Homo sapiens: one gene and its partners. The protein of the gene in region 1 purifies or fractionates together with the protein of each later gene. This does not show direct contact. Each region holds a gene or a part of one and is shown in the gene's direction. Other genes may lie near its edges.

Region 1 (5,012 bases):
AGTTTGATGTTTGTTTGACGATGGAGCTACAAGAGTCTAAATCTGCCTTTGAAAAGCTCAGCTCACAGTGTAGTAGAGTAGACTCCAAGGTTCAAAAAAGTGTTTTTAATAAAATTTGGTAAGTTCTACAATCAAGGAATGAAGAGAGAAGAGAACAGCTTTTTCCATCTGGGAGATTCAATAATGGCTTCATATATAGATGATAGTGTGGCTAAAAAAAATTACATCAATGCTGTTTCTATTGGGAAGCAATGGCAAGTAATAGTATGTCAATACTGGTCAAGTGTTGAAGCCAGGATGCACTTACACAACGAGAGTGTAAAGTGTGTAGGGAGCTGATCTGTGAAGGAGCAACTCAAAGATTTTGAAATTATCAGTGAAATGCCAAAACAGGGAAAGTTTCCCTGTTTCCCTTCATCTATTCTACAATGCACCATTGGTTTTCAGTGTGAAAAATCCCAATCCCTGAGCCCAAACCACTTCTGGGGTCAAAACATTTTTCTTGTGCACAAAATGAATGGATCTTGGTCAAAGAAGTATGGTCACAATTTTCTAGCATATATTGCGTTTATAATTTAGCAGAAATTCTGCAATAAATAAAGGAAAATCTGTTTTACCTGTGCAACAATCAGAAATGGTAAAAATGCATTCAAGTGTTTGAAAGAAATGGTAGAATATGCTTGCATAGTGCTTTATAGTTTCAAAGTGCTGTCAGGTACATCGTCCGTTTAGCTCCTCACGCACTTTGTAGGGTACAAGCATCATGTTCCATCTGGGTTGTGGCTGATTTTCATGGATGGCTTGTGGCATCAGTTTCATTACTTCATAGTCACAATTCTGTGTTTCATCTTGAGAAATGTGGAGACTAATGTTTGTACCAGTATATTCCACATTCAGTGAGGTTTCCAAGATGCTTCCTCCAAACTCTCACTTTCTTAAACAGATACATTTAAAATATGACACCTTCTGAAAAGTCCATAAAGAAATTAGTATATTCATGGAAAAAATTTCCCCGTAGACTTATTTGCATTTCATGACTTGACATGAGAAATTTAAAAAACAGAAGGCAAAATGTGATTGCTTTTGATGGATTTATACAGAATAGTCATTTAATTTTCTCAAGTATTATTTGGAAACAAGATAATGGAAAACATTAATCAGAAGCCTTATTTTATTTTTAAATTTTTAATAGGGATGGATCTAGTAAGCCCTAATAGCTGAGTTCCAGTGATAAAATTCACAAATTTTATTTATGATTGGACCACTTCTAACAAGGCAAATATCTTATAATGAAGATAGGAGTCTGTTCAATTTAACCTTATTCAGGAAACTCCGTATTTATGTGAAATGATGCAATGCCATTATTAAGAGGTATCTGTAACCCTGCATAATAAAAACATGCATAAGAAGAATGTGGTCTAATCTCCAAACTGAGTCTCAGTTTCAGGGCCTTTTGCTTTCTTTGTTTGTTTGTTTGAGACAGTCTGGCTCTGTCATCCAGGCTGGAGTGCAGTGGCACATGAGCTCACTGCAACCTCCACCTCCCAGGCTCAAGCGATCCTCCCACCTCAGCCTCCTGAGTAACTGGGACTACAGGCGCATACCACCACACCTGGCTAATTTTTGTATTTTTGTAGAGACAAGGCCCAGGCACGTCTCAAACTCTTGAGCTCAAGCGATCCGCCCGCCTTGGCCTCCCAAAGTGCTAGGAGTAATTATAGGTGTGAGCCACCATGCTGGCAGTTGTTTTTGTTTATTTGTGATAAGGTCTGGCTGTCACCCATGCTGGAGTGCAGTGGCATGATCTTGGCTCACTGCAACCTCTGCCTTCCAGGCTCAAGCCAGCCTCCCACCTCAGCCTCCGAGTAGCTAGGACTACAGGCATGCACCACCATGCCCAGCTAATTTTTTTATATTTTTTGTAGACACAGGGTTTTGCCACGTTGCCCAGGCTGGTCTTGAACTCCTGAGCTCAAGCAGTCCTCCCACCTTGGCCTCCCGAAGTGCTGGGATTACAGACGTGAGCCTCTGGGCCTTGCTCTGTTTTGTCTGCTTTCTGATTTAGTAGGTGAGGGACAGCACTCTGGACCTTAGCCATTTTACTTCCATCTTACTGCCGTGAGTTTGATGAGAATGTCACTTTTAGACTCTAATTTTCAAAAACTTAGTTTCTTTCCCATTCATTTGTGTTTTCCAAATTAATTTGTTTGTCTAGTATGGATGCAAAGGAATGCTGAAGACATTAAAGCTTTCTGAATTGTGGCTTAAGGCCAGCTACTGCCCACTGAAAGGATGATAAAAATAAAAAAGGAGGAAAGAGGAGCCCAGCAGTTGTGCCACCCCGCAAGAATATAATGCTAATTATTGACCAACTGTCAAGATTCAGAGTGGTAACTGCATTCCGAGGAGCTGTCAGGAAGGATGACCGTGTGTGTGCTGTCCATATCATAGCCATCTGGGTCAGAAGGAGCGAAAGGATGGTTAGGACAGGAGTGTAGTGGAGGGAAAGTTAAAACAACGGTAGATGGATCATCTTAGGGCTTGCTGGTGGGGGTAGGAACATACTTCAATTTGGTTTCAGACTGAGAAGAAGAAAGCTATGCTCCCTGATGAAGGCACAGTTTGATCTACTAGATGGGAAATACCCTCATTTTATAACTTCAGTAATTTAACATTTTCTGTATTGCAAAGTGGAATTTAGTCCCAAAGTATTAAAGCTAACCATAGCTTGATCAGGAGATTTGACAATTTAGCATAAAATTATGTTGTGGATTTTTTTATTTAAGAATTATTGTTACTATTATTGAACACCATGTATGAAATGAAAGAAAGGGTGCTTTTATTTCATTATACTTATTTGGTTTTTTTAGCGGACATCCCTTGACATTAGAATAGCATTTGAGACATTTTCATGATTTCTAAAGATAACTTAAATGCTCTCTGTTAATCTGGAAAGTGAAATCCTAAGAGTGAGGTTGCAAATGGAGACTAAATTAGTGTTTCCAAGTCAGGAAGTTAATCAAGACCGGAAATAGATTTGCTTAGATTTTATCTGCAGAGTCGTTTATTTGGCTTTCGTAATTGAACAGCTCAGCAGAATAAGATGGCCCTAGTTGTATGGTTTCTGGGGAACACAGGAGAATTAAATTTATATATGTGATTTTTATGTGTAGTGCCCTTGGGCAGGTGATATCTTTCTATATGACTTTTAAGATATTACAACCTGAGGAGTGTGGATAGCCGTGTTGTGTGATTCAAACTGAATCAGCTATTACTGATGCAGGTAAGGAACCATCAGTCAACTTCTGGTTACTATCACCTTCATAAAAAAGAATGGATGATGTTCAGGAATTACCTTGGAAGGATTAACCAGGAATTAACACAGAATGGGATGTTCTTTTAGGACCCTAATGCTCTAAAAGATAAAATTACAACCTATTTTTCTTTATATGATAGCATAAGTAAAATTTGGGGCTGTTAATATGTTGGAAAGTGCTTAAAATTACATGTTTTTATAATAGGGATGCAGGCATTCCAAAATAAATGAATAAAAATACATGCATCTCTCTCGCCTCTTACTGAAAGTATTAATCTAATTTTATAGTAATGATTACTTTTTAATATTAAGGCTCTGTAAAAAAATTATTTCTAAGATTTCAGTAGAACACAGGTGGTGTATTTTTTTAAGCTTTTAATTTCTCTTCACCAACCTCAGTCATTACGTTCACCACACAGTGTGTCACAGTTAATAGTGGTATTTCAGTTTTTGCGTTGATTTAAGCTTCATATTTATTTAATGTGACTTTTGATGGAGAATAATAATGGGAGATGCTTGCTGTTAGCATTAAGGTTATACAGCTCTCACTTCACCTTATATGTAATTTTTTTTTCAAAGTAAATAATGCAGATTGTTGACATCCTAGAAATGGTTTCTGGGTGGTATTATATGGGGCCTAGGACTCTGAACTGGGACTAGTTGTTTATTTTCTGGGAAGTCTGTATTCTTATTCTCAACTGAACCCCTGACTCTTTTGTTGTATTTTTTATGATTCCGAAATGCTTTGAGGGAAAGATATTTTAATGTGTACAATTTGTTTTATTTTCATACTGATCTCTATTTTTGTTTAAAACCATGTTGCATCATGAAATCACTTAATCCAAAATAAATCTTCTTTAAAAAAAATAGATTATGACTTTTCTGTAATACTTTTGGGGAGGGAAAACTCAGAAGGGAGGAGAATAGAAGTAGAGATAAAGATTTCATGGCATTAGTTTGCAGCTCTATAAATATTGGAGGTTCTGTTTTCATAGTATTTATAGTATTTTGTTTATTTTTATTTATATTTTTATTATTTATTAATAAAATATTTGTTTATTTTGTTTGGAATCTACTTTGTTTATCCCTACAAGAATATTTTACTGTTTGATGGGCTGTTAATGTTAAAGGAATGAATTATAATACAAATCATAATTTCTTAACTCACATGGGTTGAGACTATTTGTTAAGCCATCTTATTTGAATGTTTAATTTATAAACACATAGGCACACCACTGCCGCCGCCACCACTACCACGCACATCAATTTAATCTAGGGGTCGCGTGTGCATATGCCTACAGGGACCAGATAGGTATTTAACGAGTGAAATTGGCTAGGTGGAAGCAACACACAGTGGTAGGGCTTACATAAAGGGACATTCTAATATTTTGCTCCAGCAGATCCTAGCCACATGAAATTCCAGTCTAGTGTTAAAAGATCTAATATATCAAGGGAAACCCAGAAACCCAAATTTTTGTGTGATATTTCCAGATCTTTTTAGTAGTGGGTGGATCAAACCAAATATAGCTACACATTGATTTGCCCTGCAGGTCACCAGTTTGGAACCCTTGTTTTAATGGATAACATTATCTTTTATATTTAGTTGACTAGTGGTGTAAATTGGCCAGATAAGTAAAATGTTACTAAAACACGGCAGTTAATAAAAAGAGATGGGGAATATATATATAGCGCCATA
Region 2 (7,158 bases), on another chromosome or scaffold:
AATGGTGCCATCTCAGCTCACCATAACCTCTGCCTCCCAGGTTCAAGCGATTCTCCTGCCTCAGCCTCCCAAGTAGCTGGGATTACAGGCATGCGCCACCACGCCCAGCTAATTTTGTATTTTTAGTAGAGACGGGGTTTCTCCATGTTGGTCAGGCTGGTCTCGAACTCCCGACCTCAGGTGATCCACCTGCCTTAGCCTCCCAAAGTGCTGGGATTACAGGCATGAGCCACCGAGCCCGGCATGTGTTTTTTTGTTTTGTTTTGTTTTTGAGACGGAGTCTCGCTGTGTCGCCAGGCTGGAGTGCAGTGACGCGATCTCGGCTCACTGCAACCTCTGTCTCCTGGGTTCAAGAGATTCTCCTGCCTCAGCCTCCTGAGTAGCTGGGACTACAGGCGCGCACCACCATGCCCAGTTAACTTTTTTGTATGTTTAGTAGAGACGGGGTTTCGCCGTGTTGGCCAGGATGGTCTCGATCTCTTCACCTCGTCATCCGCCCGCCTCAGCCTCCCAAAGTGCTGAGATTACAGGCGTGAGCCACTGTGCCCGGCTCCATTTCCATTTTCCTTGAAGGAAATCACGGAATAATTTTCTTAAAGTTATACAGCTATCAGTAGCACATCCTCAATTGTCTGACTCCAAGAAAGTTGTTTTATATAATAGGATATGTATAATGTGAGCCTCTTCAAATAATCTGAAAATTGAGGAACTCTATCAATAGAAAGCTTCAGGCCGGGCGTGGTGGCTCACGCCTACGATCCCAGCATTTTGGGAGGCTGAGGCTGGTGGATCACGAGGTCAGGAGTTGGAGACCAGCCCGACCAACATGATGAAACCTCGTCTCTACTAAAAATACAAAATTAGCCCGGTGTGGTGGCGCAGGCCTGTAATCCCAGCTACTCGGGAGGCTGAGGTAGGAGAATCGCTTGAACCCTCCAGGAGGTAGGAGATGGAGGTTGTGGTGAGCTGACATCGCGCCACTGCACTCCAGCTTGGGCAAGAAGAACGAAACTCTGTCTCAAAAAAAAAACAAAAACAAAAACAAAAAACAAAGCTTCATGGGGTTGAGAGCAATAGAGATCATTGCTGGAATCACATATAATCTTAAAACTTAAAAAATGGACAGGAAATAATTTTAAAAGAAAACTGACAATTTTTTTTTTTTTTTTTTGAGACGGAGTCTCGCTCTGTCGCCAGGCTGGAGTGCAGTGGCGCGATCTCGGCTCACGACAACCTCCGCTTCCCGGGTTCAAGCCATTCGCCTGCCTCAGCCTCTCGAGTAGCTGGGACTACAGGCACGTGCCACCACGCCCAGCTATTTTTTTTTTTTTTTTTTTTTGTAGTTTTAGTAGAGACGGGGTTTCACTATGTTGGCCAGGATGGTCTCCATCTCTTGACCTCGTGATCCGCCCGCCTCGGCCTCCCAACCAAGTATTTTTAAAAGACAGGTAAAGGGGAGCAAGGAATGAAAACCATAAAACCATATGGATTGACTATATCACCTGTCGTAGTGGAAAGGGTCTCACAACCAAGTGAGAACAAGCAGATTTACATTCCAATCCTGGTTCCACAGCCTGGGACCCAGCACTCACCTTCTTTTGGTCTAATTTCCTCATCGGTAATTTATTTTATTTAACTTTAAAAAATTTTTTTTATTTTTTTGCAGATAGGGTCTTGCTTTGACGCCTAGGCAGTGTCGCAATCTCAGCTCACTGCAACCTCTGCCTCTGAGGTTCAAGCGATTCTCCTGCCTCCTGCCTCAGCCTCCGGAGTAGCTGGGACTACAGGCGCGCGCCACCACACCCCGCTAATTTTTGTATTTTCAGTAGAGGCGGGGTTTCACTATGTTGACAGGCTGGTCTGGAACTCCCGACCTCAAGTGATCTGCCCACCTCGGCCTCCCAAAGTGCTGGGATTACAGGCTGAGCCACCACACCCGGCCGGTTTTCTCATCAGTAATTTAGATTTTAAAGTTCCCTTTAAGATTACTTGAATACTTAAAGTCTAAGCTTTTCGATTCTTTATTTCTCAATGAGGTTAAGAAAGGAAGTATTTCATGGCCAGGCGCGGTGGCTCACGCCTGTAATTCTAGCACTTTGGGAGGCCGAGGCGGGCGGATTGCCTGAGATCAGGAGTTCGAGGCCAGCCTGGGCAACACGGTGAAGCCCAGTCTCTACTAAAATACAAAAAATTAGCCGGGTATGGTGGCGTTGGTCCCAGCTACTCAGGAGGCTGAGGCAGGAGAATCGCTTGAACCCGGGAGGTGGAAGTTGCAGTGAGCTGAGATTGTGCCATTGCACTCCAGCCTGGGCGACAGAGCAAGACTCCGTCTCCCTGCCATCCTCCCCCCCACCCCCCCACCCCCCAAAAAGCAAGGAAGTATTTTAGGAAACCGGACAGGAAATAGAACCATTAATAAGGAGAATGTCATCATTCACAGAGTGCCAAAAATTCATCTGGGATGAATATGCAGCTCCCAGTGCTCTTCACTAATTCTTATGTACATGACTTGATTAACAGTTAAAGAATATCCTGGTCTCCATTTCTGCCATTTTAAAAGTAAGTAACCATTAATTACAGAAGCGTTCCTAATAGGTGGTAAGGTGGTCATCTAGGGTATAGCTAAGGGCCAGACTCGAGTCAATTAGAATCCTGGGACCTGTCAAACGCAGTCCTGCGGAGCAGCCTTCAGACAGTGAATCTATAAAATGGATGGTTTCTTTCTTTCTTTTTTGAGACGGGGTCTCCCTGTCACCCAGGCTGGAGTGTAATGGTGCCATCTCGGCTCACTGCAACTTCCCCTTTCCGGGTTCAAGGGATTCTCCCACCTCAGCCTTCCAAGTAGCTGAGATTACAGGCACCCGCCATCATGCCCGGCTAATTTTTGTATTTTTGTAGAGACGGGGTTTCACCATGTTGGTCAGGCTGGTCTTGAACTCCTGAGCTCAGGTGATCCTCCCCCACTCGGCCTCCCAAAGTGTTGGGATTATAGGCGTGAGCCACCGCGCCCGCCCGGATGAATTTTCAAATAGAAACAATCCAGTTTCCCACATCACACGGAGATTGTGTGGATGGGTAATCCATGAAAAGCCTGGTGCTGGCACTCAGTCCCAATAAATGTTAGCTAAAAATTAGGAACTTTTCAAAGGGATGAATGTGCTTTCTAATAGAAGTAGCTGCCAGTGACATCTTGGGAGCCTCTTTTTAAAAGCAAAAAATTATTTCATCTTAAATTTTCACAAGTTCAGATTTTTATGTACCTGATTTTAACGGAGTATGAAACAGCTTGCTCTCGTAGTTACTCACCGTCATATGTTAATCGTATCATTTCTGAGCTGTTTTTTGATTTTACAAACCCTTAAATTAAGAAACGGATTAGGAACCGCCCATTAACACTGTTGGCAAATGATTTAAAATCAGGGTTGCTGGTTTTTCTGTGATAATCTATCGGCTTCAAGACGCACAGATCTCACTTTCATGGAAAGAAGTTGCCTGATACAGTTTTCCACCGGAGAGAAAAATAAAGGCTGGTACTTGGAACCTGCAAGCCGTGCATTTGGAACCTCGGACTCAAGTGCCTATTACGTAATTCCACAGCGTCCCGGCCTCCAGGCCGTTTCCCGAGCCCTCCAGCGGAGCGGGGGATAAGGTTACCACGCCCGCGGTGGCCGGGGACACTCTGAGTTTCGCGTGTGGCTTTTAGGGACGTTTATATTTGAATTTCCCTGAACCGCCGAGTGTGGGCGGTGGCGCAGATCCGTCCCGGAAACCTCCGGGCTCCTTCCCGCCTTTCTCAGGCCCGGCCCCTCCAAGGGGTCCCCGCGGGGCGGCGGGAGGGCCCTGGGCCCAGAGCCGCGCGGGTGGGCAGTCCCAGGCGTCCTTCCTTACAGCCCTGAGCCTGGTCCGGGAACCGCCCAGCCGGGAGGGCCGAGCTGACGGTTGCCCAAGGGCCAGATTTTAAATTTACAGGCCCGGCCCCCGAACCGCCGAAGCGCGCTGCCTGCTCCCCATTGGCCCATGGTAGTCACGTGGAGGCGCCGGGGCGTGCCGGCCATGTTGGGGAGTGCGGCGCCGCGGCCCGCGCCACCTCCGCCCCCCGCGGCTTGCCTCCAGCCCGCCCCTCCCGGCCCTCCTCCCCCCGCCCGCCGCTCCGTGCAGCCTGAGAGGAAACAAAGTGCTGCGAGCAGGAGACGGCGGCGGCGCGAACCCTGCTGGGCCTCCAGTCACCCTCGTCTTGCATTTTCCCGCGTGCGTGTGTGAGTGGGTGTGTGTGTTTTCTTACAAAGGGTATTTCGCGATCGATCGATTGATTCGTAGTTCCCCCCCGCGCGCCTTTGCCCTTTGTGCTGTAATCGAGCTCCCGCCATCCCAGGTGCTTCTCCGTTCCTCTAAACGCCAGCGTCTGGACGTGAGCGCAGGTCGCCGGTTTGTGCCTTCGGTCCCCGCTTCGCCCCCTGCCGTCCCCTCCTTATCACGGTCCCGCTCGCGGCCTCGCCGCCCCGCTGTCTCCGCCGCCCGCCATGGCGACTGCGACCCCCGTGCCGCCGCGGATGGGCAGCCGCGCTGGCGGCCCCACCACGCCGCTGAGCCCCACGCGCCTGTCGCGGCTCCAGGAGAAGGAGGAGCTGCGCGAGCTCAATGACCGGCTGGCGGTGTACATCGACAAGGTGCGCAGCCTGGAGACGGAGAACAGCGCGCTGCAGCTGCAGGTGACGGAGCGCGAGGAGGTGCGCGGCCGTGAGCTCACCGGCCTCAAGGCGCTCTACGAGACCGAGCTGGCCGACGCGCGACGCGCGCTCGACGACACGGCCCGCGAGCGCGCCAAGCTGCAGATCGAGCTGGGCAAGTGCAAGGCGGAACACGACCAGCTGCTCCTCAAGTGAGTGCTAGCTGGCGGCCGCGTTAGCGCCAAGGAGGGGCGGGGGCGCAACCGCGGCGACCAGCTCACCGGGTTCTGCCGTGGGGAGGGAGCAGAGGCCAGGATGCACGCGTCCTTCTGAAGGAACAGGGTCTCGGTCTCCGGAAAGGAGAAAGAATCTAGAGTTCATAGCGGAGCAGGGGTCGCGGAGGGGGCTCGAGCTGTAGCGCTGGGGGGCCGTGATGCCCATTTCTAGATTTTGGATACCCGCTGGGACGTGGTAAGTGCGCGCCTGGGACTGCCGAGAAGGAGCTCCCGCTTTCGCACTCGAATCCGGGGAGCCGGCGCGGAGAGGCGGCCCCTCAGGCCCCAGGTGCGGGGAGCTGGAGCGCGAGCGCGCGCTCGCGTGCGCGCCCCAGTTTCCGGCCGGCGCGAGACAAAGCGTCTAGCGGATTTGCAGTGCCGGGATGGGCGGCCGGGGAGGACTGGCAGCCCGCCTCTAGAATGAATGAGCTTCGCGCGGGCAGAGAGAGGAAGGGGAGGGACCTTCCCGCAGCATCCGCGTCTCCTGGGGGTGGGTCCCGCTTTGGCGCGCTCAGTCTTGGCCCTGTGACGTTTTGCGAAGATTCTACGCCTGCTTTAGGCGGGAGAGAGAGGCGGAGCTTGATCCGTGCGCCTCCAGCCAGCCCCGGGCAAGTTAGGTTTGCTAGCTGGTTAGCTTTCTCTGGGGAAATGTGTCCTGTCCCAGCGGGGATGGTGCGGTCCCTCGGGTGGTTCTGCGCAGGGAAGGAAAGCTGGGTTTGTGCATGTCACGGCTACCGTTCTTAGAATTGCGGTTCTCCTACCCCTCAGGCAGCGGCCCTCTGTCCCCAGCTTTTGCCTCCTCGTAGTATAGTCAGGCTTTCGGGTAGAGACTGTGCTTAGTACCCCTTAGTCGACCACTGTGCAGATAGTAGACCAGGGCAGGTGACAGGGTGCTGTGTAAATGCTGAGTGTTTGAGCGAAGGAGAGTTTGTAATTCACCTAAGCGAGTGCGAGTTTTCATTCCAGTGCACAAGGATACATTTGCAGACCTTTGCTGGCCTTATTTTGACTTTCTGATAAGCAAAATGGCCTGTCATCAGTAGGCAACAAGTGTTGATGTCATGCTTTAGAGATTTGCAAAATTTGGGTCTGAAATTCATGGTCGCCATTAGCACTGCCAGCTGAAATTTCTGGAGGTACCTTATTCTCACTTTGACACCCTTTGCCCCTGGATGTCTTTCTGTCTGTATCTGCGTGAATGTCCCTGTCCGAAGTCTCTGAGATTTTGTGTATTTTTACTTATCCCTCCTATCATATGTTTTCGGTTCATAAAAAAGCATGTGCACGTGGTAAGAATAAAATAGTATAGACTGGTTTGTAGCGAAAAACGATAACTGCACTACCTCTTTCCGGAGGCAATCACATTTATCCCTTTTTGTTTTTATTTCTTTGGATATTTAGTTATACAACTCGAAAATAATACTAAGCTTGTATTTCCCTTTCTTGGATTTACTAAGCCTTGGTTTCATCTTTTAAAATGAGCAGTCAGTTAACTCACACTATTATTTCTATGTTCCTCCAAATTTTTTGCCACTGAATTCCTTCAAATCTTAGATATCGTTGCTTGTAAGACTTGCCATTATTATGTGTACCACTAAGAAAATAAAAACATCAGGACCAACTGTGTAGGATCCATCCTGTTGGACCCATCATGATGGGTTTCATAGATATTAAAATGTCAAACAGGGCCGGGCGTGGTGGCTCACGCCTGTAATCCCAGCGCTTTGGGAGGCGAGGTGAGCGGATCACTTGAGGTCAGGAGTTCGAGACCAGCCTGACCAATATGGTGAAACCCCGTCTCTACTAAAAATACAAAAATTGGCCGGACGCGGGGGCTCACGCCTGTAATCCCAGCACTTTGGGAGGCCGAGGCGGGCGGATCACGAGGTCAGGAGATCGAGGCCATCCTGGCTAACAAGGTGAAACCCCGTCTCTACTAAAAATACAAAAAATTATCCAGACGTGGTGGCATGCATCTGTAGTCTCAGCTACTTGGGAGGCTGAGGCAGGAGAATCGCTTGAACCCAGGAGGCGGATATTGCAGTGAGCTGAGATTGCGCCATTGCACCCCAGCCTGGCGACAGAGTGAGACCCCATCTCAAAAAAGAAAAAAAATCCGGGCGTGGTGGCGGGCGTCTGTAATCCCAGCTACTGGGGAGGCTGAGGCAGGAGAATCGCTTGATATCCAGGAGGCAGAGGCTGCAGTGAGCCAGATG
Region 3 (7,934 bases), on another chromosome or scaffold:
TTTATATTTAGAAAAAGGCAGGAAAAAACACACTAGAGTTGACCCTTGAACAATGCAGGAGTCACGGGCGCTGACCCCCTCACACAGTTGAAAATCCAAATATAACTTCTGACTCCCCAAAAACTTAACTGCTAATAGCCTACTGTTGACTGGAAGCCTTACCGATAATATAAACAGTTGATTAACACATATTTCATATGTTATATGTATTAATACTGTATTCTTACAATAAATAATAAGCTATAGAAAAGAAAATGTTATTAAGAAAATCACAAGGCAGAGATGATCATCATAAAAGTCTTCATCCTTGTCATCTTCACATTGAGTAGGCTGAGGAGGAGGAAGAAGGGGGTGGGTTGGGCTTGCTGGTTCAGGGTGGCAGAGGTGGAGGAAGATCTGTGTGTAAGTTGACCTGCACTGTTCAAACCTGTGTTGTGCAAGGGTCTGCTGTATTGCCATTGTAAAACAGAGAACTGAAAGAAAAGGTTGGAAAAAAACTTCTCACCTGGTGATTATATAGGGGTTTATTAACTCTGGGGTTGATGTGACCATTTGATGTTTATAAAAAGAAGAAATTAAAAGAAAAGGTGTTTAGAAGCATGGCAGCGTATGCTTTCCTTCCTTGTGTCCATGCCTTTGCTCGAAATATCCTCCTCTCAGCACCTGGATTTCTTGGAACTTGCCCGTTTTTTTCCTGTGCATCATTCCTCTATGCTCCCATAATGCTTTGTGTCTAATCTCTAGTGTGTTCACCATCATTTTTTATCTTTAGCATACTACACTCTGATGTAGTAAATACTTCTGAAAGTGAATTGCAGGAGCACTGACTAACCCCAGTGAGCCAGCTGGAAACCTCAATGTGCTAGGAGTCATTTCGAGTGGATTCTAGGACTGCACCTTTAGAGATTCAGAAATTTGGAGGTGGAACATGAGGAGTTTAAATTTTTACATGCTTTGGTTTCATAAGTTACACTTCAGAAAGTGCTTGAAATTGAACTTAAAAAATATCCTTACTTGTTCTAGGAGCAAAACAAGCATTTTGATCAAAGCAGCCTGGGTGCATCAAATCATTGGTTTGTTCATTCAACAGTCATTAATGGAGAACTACCAGTTGTAGCGATGGTCCCAGGTGAGGCTGTGTGTAGTAGCTGTTCCTTACGTAGTCATGTTCATCCACTCTTCTTTTGCTGTTTGGCTTCTCTGTCTTTGCAAGCCCAAGCCCATTCTTAGGGCCCATTCAGTGAAAGTATTAGCTGGTAAAGACTTTAAATGTTTGTCAAGAAGGGGTGCTGAGAAAAGTGAGAGGAGAAAGACATTTGCATTTTAATAGAGTATTTAAATTCCTTGGTATTTCAAATTACTGGAGAAGAGGAGGGTTTCTAACTTTTACTGAATTCCTAGATGTGCCCAGCACTTGACCTGTATTATCTCATTTAACCCTTGCAATAAGTTTATGAGGCAAATGTTATTATTTTATAGAGGAGGAAGCTGAGGCTCTCCGTGTCTAGAAATAGATAGAACATGGACTAGAAGCAGGTCTTACTGTAAAGGCCCTGCTCATTCTCCTCTATCCAGATGCCTCTGTTACTTCAACATTCTTCCCGCCTCTATGCTTGTTGGGAACAGCTTGGTATCACTGGAACATCCTGGTACTCGTCCTGTTTTGAGTGAAAGACTGCTCTCTGGGCTGCCCCAAAGAGCACTAAAATTGGCCCATCATCTTCTTAGCTTTCTTAGGAATGAGTAAATGACAACTTGGGTCACTTTAGAAAGGATGCTGACCTTTAGGATGAGTGCATAGATCTAAAGAAGGCACAGATGTGGACTGGTTCACTACCTTGCTGTTAGTGAAGGTGTGTTCAATTTTTATTGTAAACATACTTTGTTTCCATTAGACACAAACCAGACATCAGAATCTCCAGCCAAGTGTGCTTACTGAAAGATGTTATTGATAACTTCTTGCTAGTGAAATTCAGAGTCTTTTTTTGCAGGCCTTAGTTCCTGAACAATAGATTCAGGAACTAAGTTAAGGCCTGAAAAGATTGTTTTCTGCATTTGATGTAGAGCTTATTCACAGATAAGGAAATTAAGGCACAGGAGGGAAACATTGGTCTCCAGCAGTGTTTTCTGCCTGTGCTTCCATGTATCTGATTACTGGGTATTAATTTGAGGAGTCTAGGCTAGGTCCACCTGATTGAATCAGAAGATCCTTGAACCCACAAGCTGTGCCTAGCACTTCATTGCAGGTCTAAGAATCTGTAGCATTTGATAGAAGGACCCACTTCTTAAAACTTCCTCTGGCTTCCATGCCTTTACCTTTTCCCAGCTCTTCTACTTCTCCAGATTCTTCCTCTTCTCCCTCCTTCTTTCCCTGTTTTCCAGTTGTGGACATTCTGTTAATGAACTGATCTTCAAAGCTTCATCTCTCCTTTTCTCTACACCTCTGTCCTCCACTTCTCACCCAGTCCCTTGTTCCTTGTTTCCTCTTGCCCAGAGGATAGTAAGTCACTCAGCATCTTTCTCAAACCGTTTCCTCTTCTCAACTGTGCTTCATCTGTCATTGGTCTAATGATCCATTCTTCTAAGACTGCAAGATCTATTCTTCCTATGACTGGGCTCAAAGCCTAGGTTAACTTGATTACTTTGTCCTTTTCCCCAGGATAAACAACGAGTCAATGAGAAGAATAAAATCTTGCTTCAAAGATTTGATACCTTTCTTTATGACATCTGGTATCTCCAAAGATATGGTATCTCTCATTTCCTTTTTATCACCTCTGTCAACCTCACCTATCATTGCTTCCTGCAACTATCCTAGATAGTCTCTTGAAATAATAATAGCAAATGTATATTGAATACTACATGCATTGTGCTGAGTATTTTACATTTGTTATTTTATTCAGTCTTCACAACCACTCTGTGAGATGCTATTTTCTTCATCTTGCCAAAAAGGATACTGAGGTTTAGAGAAGTTAGGCAACTTGCTCAGCGTCACACAGATACTGAATGGTGGAGCTGCAACTCAGCTCATGCCTGTTTTGTTCTAAACTTGATGGTTGTAACTTGGAAATTTTGCTGCTTCCTAGACTATAGGATGGTATCTAGGAGTGGGCAATTAGTAAAGATTAGTTTCCTTTCTTCTTTTTCTATCCATCACTTCTTCCCCAATTTGTATTAAATTCGCGCAAATGTTAGGTGAATCAGTGGTCCCTTCACTGTCCATAAGATAACCACTTCAGCTCCTAATTTGCGATTCAGGGTTCACAATGTGTAATACAAGGCACATTGAGGCAGAGGTTGTTTCTATACCTGGCTTTGCTACTAAACTTGTTCTGTAACATTGGACAAGTCATTCAACAGCTATGCCTGAGCTTCTTCATCCGGCAAGTGAAAGGTTTAGTTGACACTTTCTTAGATTCTTTCCAGGCCTACATTTTTGTGACGTTGTTATTCTGCCTTCCCTTGTTTTCTCCTCGTTTCTGGTAAAAACGCTTTCCTCTATGCCTTCTTCCCAAGCACCCAGACCTTGTCATCTCCCTCTTGGCTTTTGCCTCTGCTTGCCCAGTGCTGCCTTTTCCTCTTTCTGCTGTGTCTGAACTCCACCACCCTCCCAGGCTTTTCCTTCTGTGTAGTCAGTGCCTCTCTCCGCCCTTCCCAGGCATCTGCAGTACTTGGATCTCCTGCTTTGTTGCTTGCCTGTTTTCTGTTCACACATCTTGTCTTCTTAGACAGATAACAGATCCTTGAAGGGCTGGTCAGCTGCTCTAAGTTTCTTTTGTGTGCTAAGTTTCTTTTGTGTGTACCAGGGTAGATGACTTTAAATGGAGTAGGCATTTCATAAATAATTGTTAAATGATTACATTTGGGCTTTATCTTGAGAGCAGAGTTTACTCAGTAGGAGGGCCCATCAGGGGAATCAGAATCAGGACATGCAACCCACCAGAACTGATGAGAGGTAAAACTGCTGGCAGTCTAGTTAGGGAACTGCCACAATCCAGGGAGGAGTCCCTGAAGGCCGGACCTAGATAGCAGGTAAACAGAGGCAGGGAGCACCAGATAAGAGAGGCTTGGTGTGCGCTAACTCTCCCACTAACATCCTGGGCAGCAACTGTACAGTTACCTAGCTTTCTCTTCTCCAAGCAGTAGAGCTGCCCGGAAAAAGCCAGGCAGAAGTGCTATGGGGCAGGCTCGGGCACCCCAGATTAGGGCTCCAGAGAGCCGCCAGTATAAACCAATATAATGAGGTGGATGAGTAGTTCTCAGCACAGCCTGATTTTAAGAGGTGGGGCAACATTTTCCCAGAGTCGCTTACTTTCTTTACCTCTACTCAGGCAGATAACAGCCTGGGGATTTATGGCCAGAGGATGTACGGTTCTGCGAACACATTTAATATCCGAGGCTGTCAGGTCTGTTTTGGCCCTTCTGTTTGTCAACGGAGCACATAGTAGCAGCTTATCGCCCAATCTCAAGTGCGTGATGGAAGCACTGGGGCCTGGGGAATGCTGAGAAAAGTGTGGCCACTTTCTACCTGGAAATTCCACTTAAGAAGAAAAAAAACCAACCTAAGCAAATCTAGACTTTTGGGCAGATCCGGAAACAGAATTTTGGCCGGCATTGGGCTGGTGGGGAAGGAAGACAAAGTGGAGGGAGAACTGGTGAGTCTGAAATTAATCAAAACCCGGCAGGGGACAAAGGAAGGGATGCTGTCGCCCTCCTAAGTCTCAGGGAGACACGTCAGCTTGAGCTCTGGGCAATTTCAGCCTGGCAGTCTCGCGGCCCGGGGAGGGGCGGCGGGTGTCTGCAGACGGGCTCTAGGGCCCAGCGGCCGGGCGCCACGGCGGGGGTGGAGTGTAGGGTTCTAGTGACGAGCCCGGGCGACCCTCCCCGGCCCGCGCGCGGGGAGCGGGGAGCGCGGACGGCGGCGGGAGCGCGCGAGAAGCTCTAGGACCCAGCAGCGGTTGTCGGGTTTGGGGCTGGAGGTGAAGCCCTGTGTGAATGGGGTTGATTGTCCGGCGCCACTTCCCCGCGCTGCCCGGCAGCCGTCTTCCCCAGCCGAGGGACTGAACTAGCCATGATCGCCTCATGTGGAGGGCAAAGTTGCGCCGGGGAACTTGTGAGCCTGCGGTGAAAGGTAACCAGCCCCCACTCGAGGTGCCGGGAGGGCGTCTCCGAGTCTCCCACGCGAAGAACCCAGTCGCCCCGGGCTCCCCGGGCCCCTGCTGCTCACGGAAGGGGGCAGCTTCTGGGGGCCCGGGGCTGAGATCCCAGATTGTTGTTTTTAAGCGGGTTCCCTTGCCCCGCTCCAGGTCCAGTTGCCTGCGGGCCGGGCCTCAGCGTCTTGCCGCCCCGCGACCCACGTTGACTGAAGTTGTGGCCCCGGGGTTTGGGCCCCGGGGTGCTGCGCGCCCGACGCGGGGCTGGCCTTTCCTGAGGGGCGCAGCCATATGGCCAGACACTCCGAGGCGCGCCCGCGCCCGCGCGCGGGTCTCGCGGCGAGGGAGGGGACGGAAGGGGGTGTCCGGTGCAGCTTTCCCCGGCGCGAGACAAAGGCGCGCGCACCGGCCCGCCCGACGGGCTCTGGCGCTGTGGACTGGACCCTTTCTGCCCGCCGGCCAGACCCGGCTCTGGCGGGTGGGGGCGACGAAAGGGTCGCACCCCAGCCCCAGACGCTCGGATCGCGTTAGCTGCTGCTCCTTCTTTGTTCTCTCCCCAGACAAGTTTCTTTGACAAACTGGAGAGTTACATCCAGCTCCCGCTTGCCTGTTAGGGCTGCCTTTACAATAATCTGCTTTCGCGGGGAGAAAATTTAAACTTTCCAAATGGAACTGTTTTTTCTTGGAATGTGACATTTGTGGCAGGAGGGAGAGTGGTACGTTGGCCGATGACAGCCGAGCGGAACGGTGGCCTAGTGCCGGGACAGGGACCGAGCGTGCCCCATAGGCGGCCGGGCTGGAGGACGCGGCGGCAGAGCAGACGAGCCCTGGCGCGCACCTCTAGGGCCTCCGCTACCTGGACTGCGCTCGCGGCGACGTGTCCAAGTTTCCCCCCTCAGAGCCCCAGGCCGAGAATCCCGGGTATCTGCGCAAAGCTCCCGCGCCTCGCCCACCCTACTCTTCCTATCTTTACTGATGACTAGGAAGACTTTCCTTTTCCATTTTTGTTCGAAGATTTTTGCCTTTTTGGCTTCGGTGTTGGTTTCCTGTCTCCGCGTGGCAAATACCTTTTGGCCGGGCTAGCGTGTGGATCACCTGGACTGGGGTTTCAGAGGTGGGCCCTGAGCGTGCGGCCTCCTGAGACGATGCGGTTTGGACCCAACATTTTGTCCCCATGGTCCCTCAGCTCCCTTTCTCTGTGAGGCCTTGGTTTCCCATTTTCTTCTCCTGAGGCATGTTATGAGAACTGAGTTTTTGTACTGCTTATAGAAGGCCTTGGTGGTGGTGGGGTACGTGGTCTCGAGAGCCAGTTGTGATACCTCGAAGATGCTTTCGGCTAACCAAAGCAGTAACGTGCTAACCTGCTCACCATAAACGAATTAAACCAGAATAGAGGGCTATTAATAGCTACAGTTCCAGAAAATTTCCTTCCTTTTCGGGAAGCAAAAAGTCAAGGCTTGAAATATTAAACAATCATGGCTCCCTGCTTCCAAAACTGGCCTATGGGTCACTGCCAAACTGGCTAAGATTTCCCCTGGCTGCATACCACTCCTGGGCCCGGGCAGCTGTGGAAGTCAGACCCAGGTTAACGATTAAGGAGCTCTCTAGATTGCAAGGTCTTAAAGAATCTAGAGCAACTGACATTTACTTCCTAGTAAGGTGCTCTGAGCCTTATAGTGTGTATCTACTTTGAAGGCTCTTTATGAGAATAATGTGGGAACAGTAGTTTAATATACTTTGAACTGTTAGTAAAGGGTGGAAAAGCACTGATTTGACTAGAATGAAGGAAAACACCGATTCGACCAGAATGAAAAGGGTAGGACATAGGTAGAAGGCTTTATACAGGCTCTACTTTTCCTTATGATGGTGGTGGGGGTTGGGGGGAGGGATGAGGATGTTTAGTTCTTGGAGTGCACTTTTGTTTTTCTGTGATGCATTTTTCAAGATAAATAAGGAAACCTTTGTAAACCTGCAGGTGGATAGGAGAGAAGGTGCTGTACCTGTAACGCCCCTTTCCCTCCCCCTTCTTTTTAAAATGCACAGAAGTCTTGGTCTTTCAGGTTCTTTGCAGATGATGGAGGATGTAGCATACTAATTTTCCAAAGGGCATGTGGAGATCAAAGCATTTAAAAATACATCTTTTCACGGAGGCTAATGGAGGATTTTCAGTTTAAATGAGATTTTAAAGTGCTGTCGTTAAGAAAAACACATGAATGCAGAAATGTGAGTGATTTTATGGGAAAGCACTCCGCTGATCAGACTTGAGAGTGTCTGCCCTGGGCCAGTTAGTCTAGAGGCTGTTGTGGGTAGAGCTCAGCTTTTCTGATGTCTACCCCTAAGGAAAAGTGTGGACCCAGGGCCTAGGGAAAAGATGGCTGAACTAATTGAAATGAGCAGTCTGGCTGGTGAGAGTTCTGTTGAAAGGTATAGCCTCTAGGTATCAGTGCTGCATTTCTTCATAGTAATTTGTGAAAATGCTTTGAAAATGATAAAACAAAGACTTTTGAAAAAAATAATTAATGACATGAAATGGGAATTGCTAGTGAAAATTGTAAAAGTTTGATTTTTCAGGCCAATAAATTAAAAAGAAGTAACTTTATAGGACCTGCTAATATTTCTGATATATAAAATTCCCCCAAAGTAACCTTTTCTATTTTCTTTTCTTTTTGGCGGGGTTGGGGGGGGGGTGCGGTGTGTGGCTATCTGCATTTTAAATGCATAAGGAAGCTCAGGTCAGAAAATTCTGCAGTGTTTTGAATAATTTTTCTCCTATTTTTCATTAAT

What was found.
Region 2: the proteins of HECW2 (region 1) and LMNB1 purify together in Homo sapiens (affinity purification with western blotting; 2 studies listed by BioGRID, with this or other methods). This does not show direct contact.
Region 3: the proteins of HECW2 (region 1) and AMOTL1 purify together in Homo sapiens (affinity purification with western blotting; 2 studies listed by BioGRID, with this or other methods). This does not show direct contact.

What each region holds. Positions count from the first base shown.
Region 1 is NC_000002.12:196,193,543-196,198,554, reverse strand, and holds the end of HECW2 (E3 ubiquitin-protein ligase HECW2), read left to right. Parts: 3' UTR 1-4,483; downstream 4,484-5,012. UniProt on the Homo sapiens protein: E3 ubiquitin-protein ligase that mediates ubiquitination of TP73. Acts to stabilize TP73 and enhance activation of transcription by TP73. Involved in the regulation of mitotic metaphase/anaphase transition.
Region 2 is NC_000005.10:126,772,989-126,780,146, forward strand, and holds the start of LMNB1 (lamin-B1), read left to right. Parts: upstream 1-4,147; 5' UTR 4,148-4,520; coding exon 4,521-4,879; exon of another isoform or gene 4,880-5,362; coding exon of another isoform or gene 5,363-5,571; intron 5,572-7,158. UniProt on the Homo sapiens protein: Lamins are intermediate filament proteins that assemble into a filamentous meshwork, and which constitute the major components of the nuclear lamina, a fibrous layer on the nucleoplasmic side of the inner nuclear membrane.
Region 3 is NC_000011.10:94,763,433-94,771,366, forward strand, and holds the start of AMOTL1 (angiomotin-like protein 1), read left to right. Parts: upstream 1-4,923; 5' UTR 4,924-5,079; coding exon 5,080-5,128; intron 5,129-7,934. UniProt on the Homo sapiens protein: Inhibits the Wnt/beta-catenin signaling pathway, probably by recruiting CTNNB1 to recycling endosomes and hence preventing its translocation to the nucleus.